Linked DNA regions of Homo sapiens. The protein of the gene in region 1 interacts with the protein of each later gene in a pairwise test. Each region holds a gene or a part of one and is shown in the gene's direction. Other genes may lie near its edges.

The links. The genes of interacting proteins can lie anywhere in the genome.
Region 2: the proteins of B9D1 (region 1) and EXOSC10 interact in a two-hybrid assay, tested with the Homo sapiens proteins (one large-scale study listed by BioGRID and IntAct).

Annotation. Positions count from the first base shown.
Region 1 is NC_000017.11:19,356,224-19,359,723, reverse strand, and holds part of B9D1 (B9 domain-containing protein 1), read left to right. Parts: intron 1-1,772; coding exon 1,773-1,884; intron 1,885-3,500. UniProt on the Homo sapiens protein: Component of the tectonic-like complex, a complex localized at the transition zone of primary cilia and acting as a barrier that prevents diffusion of transmembrane proteins between the cilia and plasma membranes.
Region 2 is NC_000001.11:11,093,370-11,096,869, reverse strand, and holds part of EXOSC10 (exosome complex component 10), read left to right. Parts: intron 1-988; coding exon 989-1,112; intron 1,113-3,500. UniProt on the Homo sapiens protein: Catalytic component of the RNA exosome complex which has 3'->5' exoribonuclease activity and participates in a multitude of cellular RNA processing and degradation events.

The DNA of each region.
Region 1 (3,500 bases):
GATTGTCTTCTGGGTGCTGGGGATGCAGGGGTGAGCAAAGCCAAACCAGAAGACCCTGCCTTCCCGGAGCGCACGTTCTTGCTGGGGGGTCAGATAATAAGGAGTGCATATTCTAGGATGTTAGTAAGCCAGAAGTGTGAGGGGAGACCAAGCCAGGAAGTGACAGGGATGAGTGATGAGAAGGAGGCTGCGATCTCGCTAAGGCTGCCAGGGAGGGCCTTGCCGAGAAAGTAACTTTTGAGGAAAGACCTGAAGGAAGTGAGGGAACAAGCCATGTGGAAACCCGTGAGAACTGTCCAGGCAGAAACAGCAGAGAGTGCAAAGGCCCTGGAGCAGGAGCTTGCCTGGCATGTTTGAGGACCAGCAAGGAGGCTGTGTGGCCACTGGAGAGCGAGCCAGCAGGAGAGTGGCTGGAGCAGAGAGGCACCTGGGCAGGTCTTGTCAGAGTAAGGACTGTGACCTTTACTCAAAGGGAGATGGGATCCCACTGGAGAACTTTCAGCAGAGAAAGTGATCTGACTTATGTTTTTAGAAGATTCCCTGGCTTCTACGACAAGGATAGACTCGGGGGGAAAGGGCAAGAGCAGGCAGCCCAGTTGGCTCTGACAGCAGTGGAGATGGGAGAGGAGGGCAGTGGCAGTGGGGTGGTGGGAGGGGCTGGACTGCAAGTATATTCTGAAGATAGAGCCGCTGGGTTCTTTTGATGGATGTGAGGTCTGAGAGAAGGAGGAGTTAGGATTCACAGCAGGGCTTTTAGCCTGAGCACTTAGAAGTAGGCAGCTGCCTTTCAGTGAGAAGAACAGATTGGGGAGAGCTACCTGGAGCTCAGCCTGGTGTGGGTTAAGGTTGAGGCACCCACTGGATATCCAAGAGGAGGTGCTGATCCAGAGTGCAGAGGCAAGGACCAGGCTGGAGACATAAATTTGGGAATCATCGACATCTAGAGCACATTGAAAGCCATGAGATGGATGAGATCACCAAGTACAGGTAGAGGAGCTGGCCAAAGATGCAGCCTTAGGACGGCAACACTGAGAAGGAACCAGCAAGAGCCACTGAGCAGGGGCCACCCTGTGCAGTGGAGAGACCCAGAAGCCAAGGGAAGACAGTGTATCAAGGAGTAAGCAGCTGCATCAGGTGCTGCTGATGGGTCAAGTAACACGAGGATAGAGAAATGACCATTGGATCTAGCAATGTTGGTCACGGGCATTAATGGAGAAAACCCTTTGGTAGAGTGCTGGAGCCAGCAGTCACATTGGAGTGGGGTCACAAAAGAATAGCAGGGGAGGAATTGGAGCCGGTGAGTGTGGCAGCTCTTTGAGGCAGTTTTGCTATAAAGGGAGCAGAGAAAGGGTTGGTGGGTGGAAGAAGCCGCAGAGTTGAAAGAGGACTATTTTTGATGGAGAAAACACATTTACGTATTTACCGATGGGGATACTCAGGTGAGGATGGGGATACTCAGGTGAGGGTGGGGATGCAGGAGAGTGTAAGCATGCTGGACCATTCCTTCAGTGGGGCAAGAGCTTGGGACCAGATCTAGTGCCCTTGTGCCCGGGAGAGTGGCTGGCCTCCCAGGGTTGTCAAGCTACGGCGTTAAAGTACCAGACTTAAAGAGGTACTCCATCATCTCTTAGTCCCCTTTGTTTGGAAGTTCGTGTCTTGGGAGAAGACAGCTGAGAAAACAGCCCTCCCAACTGCCTGCTGAAGGTAAGGGGAGGAGCCGCAGCAGCTTGGCTCTGCTCTGAATCCAGCCGTCTGTGTCACTGTCCTCACAGGGTCTGGAGGAGGGGATCTCACAGATCACATCCAAGAGCCAAGATGTGCGGCAAGCACTGGTGTGGAACTTCCCCATTGATGTCACCTTTAAAAGCACCAACCCCTACGGCTGTGAGTCTGCAGGGGCCCTGTGGGGTAGGGTGGCAGAGCTTTCACACAGCACCCCCAAGACAGCCTCTGCCTCATCCAGCCCATGACTGTTCACATTCAGATTGTCACCTGGGCTCTTGAAGCAGCCCTCAACGTTCTCTCTCGCCATCTGTCCCTTTCCCTCCTCTTCTTCCTCATCCCCACTCACCCCCTTCATCTGCTACAGGCTGTGCAGCTGGCCTTCTGGAAGTTCAGAGTGCATCAGGGCTAGTGGCCACGCCTGTAAAAGGCAGGCTCCCCACCCTGGCATGCAGGACTGTGGCTGTTTGGCCTGGAGGCCTGACTCTGTGCCTGCTGACTTCCCATGGCGTGTTGTGTTCCGGCTAGACCCTGGCACTTTCTCCTCCTGTGCTAGTCCCTCAACTTTCTTCATCTGAGCTTTATTCATGCCGATCCATCTGTCTGGATACCATTCCCACGTCCTATGTCTAACCTCTTTCCCAAGGGCTTCCTGGCTGGCATTGCTTACTTTCTACCTTGGCTGGTGGTTATTAACCATTCTGATTGTTCACTTGCACTTCATAAGTGCCTACTGTGCACAAAGCCTGGGCTTAGTCTCCATGGGGACTATGAATACTTTCACTGTGTGGACTTATCCGAGCTTCCCAATCATACCTGCTGGAGAGATTTCTCTCCATTTCTTTTCCCATATAAGGAAACTGACACTCAAAATTGACATCATTTGCCTTCTGCTTTACATCTAGTGACCAAGTGTGGATTTTAATTCAGGCCCATCTGATTTCACAATCTAGGCCTTTCTACTGCACGTGGCCTGGGCCTAGGCTTACCACGGTGTGGAGGGTCTGGAGCAGAAAATGCTTGGTGGTCCTCCTGAGCAGGGAATTCCATCCTGCTGTCATCATCCATGAGTAGGAAGTTTCAATAGACTTCCTGGAACAGTGCAATAGGTACTGTAGGTACTGGACGAACCTCCTCCTGCCGAGGACAGGTAGGAGAGGTAAATGTAATACACAAAAGCAAAAACAAAAAGCAACTACCTCAGAGGCATCAGAGAGCTAGCAAAGTAGAAGAGATTTACCAGGCAAGATCCAGGAGAACAGAAATCCAGAGAGGTTACCCCAATCCCATCTCCTCTGGGAGTGTTTGCTGATTTCAATAGAGGTGATTGAGAGACTGATCAAGACTTTTGACAGCCTCTCTGGGTCCAGGACACAAAAAAACTGATGTTCAGAGCCTTCCAAGGGGTTGGGAGGAGGGCCTCAGGTAAATCTCACCAACTGGGTTAAGACCTCAAAGAGCTGCCCTAGGAATAAGGGAGAGATGGAAGCAGAGCAGCCTCACAGGGATTTCAGCTCAGCCCCTGATGATTTCAACCTCCTGATTCTTCTATTCAGCTCCAAGATTGTTACACCAAGGCACCTGACAAAAACAAATTAGAAACCTCTTTGGGCTGGGCATGGTGGCTCATGCCTGTAATTCCAGCACTTTGGGAGGCTGAGGCAGGCAGATCGCCTGAGCTCAGGAGTTTAAGACCAGCCTGGGCAATATGGCAAAAATCTCTCTCTACTAAAAATACGAAAATTAGCTTGGCATGGGGGTGGGCGCCTGTAATCTTA
Region 2 (3,500 bases), on another chromosome or scaffold:
GTGACCACTCCTGAAGTGCTAGGATTACAGGTGTGAGCCACTGCGCCCAGCTAGGGTGCAAGTTTTATTGGTTTCATCAAAAAGTATCAGGGGCCAGACATGGCGGCTCATGCCTGTAATCCTAGTGCTTTGGGAGGCAAAGGCAGAAGGATCGCTTGAGCCCAGGAGTTCAAGACCAGCCTGGGCAACGTAGGGAGACTCCATCCCTACAAAAAATTTTTAAAGTAGCTGGGAGTGGTGGTGCACCACTCCCAAGTCACAGCTACTTGGGAGGCTGAGGTGGGAGTATCACTTGAGCCCAGGAGTTCAAGGCTACAGGGAGCTGTGATTGTACTGCTGCATTCCAGCCTGGGTAACAGAGCAAGACCCTGTCTCTTTAAAAAAAAAAAAAAAAAAAAGAAAGAAAGAAAGAAAGAAAAAGGCTGGGCTCATGGCTCACACCTGTAATCCCAGAACTTTGGGAGGCCGAGGCAGGTGGATCACTTCAGGTCAAGAGTTCGAGACCAGCCTGGCCAACGTGGTGAAACGTCATCTTTACTAAAAATACAAAAATTAGCCAGACCTGGTGGCGTGTGCCCATAATCCCAGCTACTCAGGAGGCTGAGGCATGAGAATCGCTTGAATCCGGGAGTCGGAGGCAGGCAGATCACTTCGGGTCAGGAGTTCGAGAGCAGCCTGGCCAACATGGCAAAACCTCATCTTTACTAAAAATACAAAAATTAACCAGACCTGTTGGCATGTGCCTATAATCCCAGCTACTCAGGAGGCTGAGACACGAGAATCGCTTGAACCCGGGAGGTTGAGGTTGCAGAGAGCCAAGATCATGCCACTGAACTCCAGCCTGGGCAACAGAGCAAGACTGTCTCAAAAAAAAAAAAAAAGATGTGTTGGGAACAGTCTGAGCCACATCATTTGAACATTCTCTCTCACAGAATGTAAACAAGTGAAATAAAAATCTACAAGCTAACCTTGGTTTTCCTTTCCTTAGCATGAGCAGAGTAATGCAGTACCATGGGTGTCGCAGCAACATTAAGGATCGAAGTAAAGTGACTGAGCTGGAAGACAAGTTTGATTTACTAGTTGATGCCAATGATGTAATTCTGGAGAGAGTGGTGAGTATTTTCCCTTACTCTTTTTTTTGTTTTGTTTTGTTTTTGAGACGGAGTCTCGCTCTGTCGCCCAGGCTGGAGTGCAGTGATGCGATCTCGACTCACTGCAAGCTCTGCCTCCCGGGTTCACAACACTCTCCTGCCTCAGCCTCCCAAGTAGCTGGGACTACAGGCGCCCGCCACCACACCTGGCTAATTTTTTTGTATTTTTAGTAGAGACGGGGTTTCACCGTGTTAGCCAGGATGGTCTCGATCTCCTGACCTTGTGATCCGCCCGCCTCAGCCTCCCAGAATGCTGGGATTACAGGCGTGAGCCACCACACCCGGCCTTCCCTTACTCTTATGGTAACTAACAAAGAGCTTTGTATTATTAAAATATACGGATAGACAGAGCAACCCAGGCACCTTAGAAAATGAAAAGGAAATAAGCTTAACATTTCTTATAATAACATTCCCTTCTAATAGTTGGTATATTTTTTCTAAAAAATAATTACAGTTGTCTTAAAAATATTACTGCCCCATGGAAGCTTCTTTTTTTTTTTTTTTTTTGAGACGGAGTCTTGCTTGGTTGCCCAGGCTGGAGTGCAGTGGGGCGATGTTGGTTCACTGCAACCTCCACCTCCCAGGTTCAAGCGATTCTCCTACCTCAGCCTCCGGAGTAGCTGGGATTACAGGCACCCACCACTATTCCTGGCTAATTTTTGTATTTTTAGTAGAGACATCGTTTTGTCATATTAGCCAAGCTGGTCTCAAACTCCTGACTTCAAGTGATCTGCCTGTCTTGGCCTCCCAAAGTGCTGGGATTACAGGCGTGAGCCACCTCACTGAGCCTGAAAGCCTGTTTTTAAAGTGCCTTATTCCAGCCAGGTGTGGTGGCTCACACCTACAATCCCAGAACTTTGGGAGGCCAAGGCGGGTGATCACCTGAGGTCAGGAGTTCAAGACCAGTCTGGCCAACATGGTGAAACCCCGTCTCTACTAAAATATAAAAACTAGCCAGGCCATGGTGGCACACACCTGTCATTCCAGCTATTCAGGAGGCTGAGGCAGGAGAATCGCTTGAACCCGGGAGGCCAAGGTTGCAGTGAGCCGCGATCATGCCACTGCACTCCAGCCTGGATGACAGTGAGACTCTGTCTCAAAAAAAAAAAAAAAAAGGTGGCCTGGCATGGTGGTTCACGCCTATAATCCCAGCACTTTGGGAGGCCGAGGTGGGTGGATCCACCTACCTGAGGTCAGGGGTTCAGGAGCAGCCTGGCGGACATGGTAAAACACTGTCTCTACTAAAAATATAAAAAATTAGCTGAGTGTTGTGGTGGGCACTTGTAATCCCAGCTACTCAGGAGGCTGAGGCAGGAGAATCGCTTGAACTCGTGAGGCAGAGGTTGCAGTGAGCCAAGATTGCACCATTGCACTCCAGCCTGGGCATCAAGAGTGAGACGCCATCTCAAAAAAAAAAAAAAAAGTTAAAGTGCCTTATTCTGGCCAGGGTCAGTGGCTCACTCCTGTAATCCTAGCACTGTAGGAGGCCGAGGTAAGAGGATTGCTTGAGCTCAGGAGTTCCAGAACCAGCCTGGGCAACATAGTGAGACCTTGTCTTTATTTAAAATTAATAAATAAATAAAGTGCCTTATTCTGAATCTGTCTTCCAGATCTGCAAATTCTGTTTTTATTTTTTTGGATACTGAAGTCTTGCTCTGTCACCCAGGCTGGAGTGCAGTGGTGCAACCATAACTCACTGCAACCTTGAACTCCTGGGCTCAAGCGATCCTCCCACCACAGCCTCCCAAGTAGCTGGGACTGCAGGTGTGCACCACCACGTCTGGCTGAATTTTTTTTTATTTTATAGAGACAATGTCTTGCTGTGTTGCCCAGGCTGGTCTTGAACTCCTCAAACAATCCTGGCCTCAAACAATCCCCCCCCACCTCAGCCTCCTTAGTCACTAGGATTATAGGCATGAGCCACTGTGCCTGACAAGATTTGCAAATTCTATTTGTGTTGCAAAAGAAGAGGCATTTATATCACCCAACCAAAATTTAGTTTATTTGTACCGTTACTCAAAATCTACTGAACCCCCTCCAGCTCACAGGATTGGAAGGAGATGTGTATTATTCTGTCTTGCTTACTATCTATTTATGCCTAATTCTATGGCAGAACGTTATTTCCACAGAAATACATAGAGATCATGGAAAACAAATCTGACTTCAACCATCTGACAGTCCTGAAAATATTTAAATCATGCCCTCCTGTCCCATGAAGTCATCTCTTCCCTAGTCTAAATGCCTACAAATCTTTCAGCAGTTTCTGGTATATTGTGATTTCAAGTCCTGCCATAATCCTATGTGTCACCTGGTTGTGCCTCTGTTAGTAGTGCCCAAGCTGATATTTCA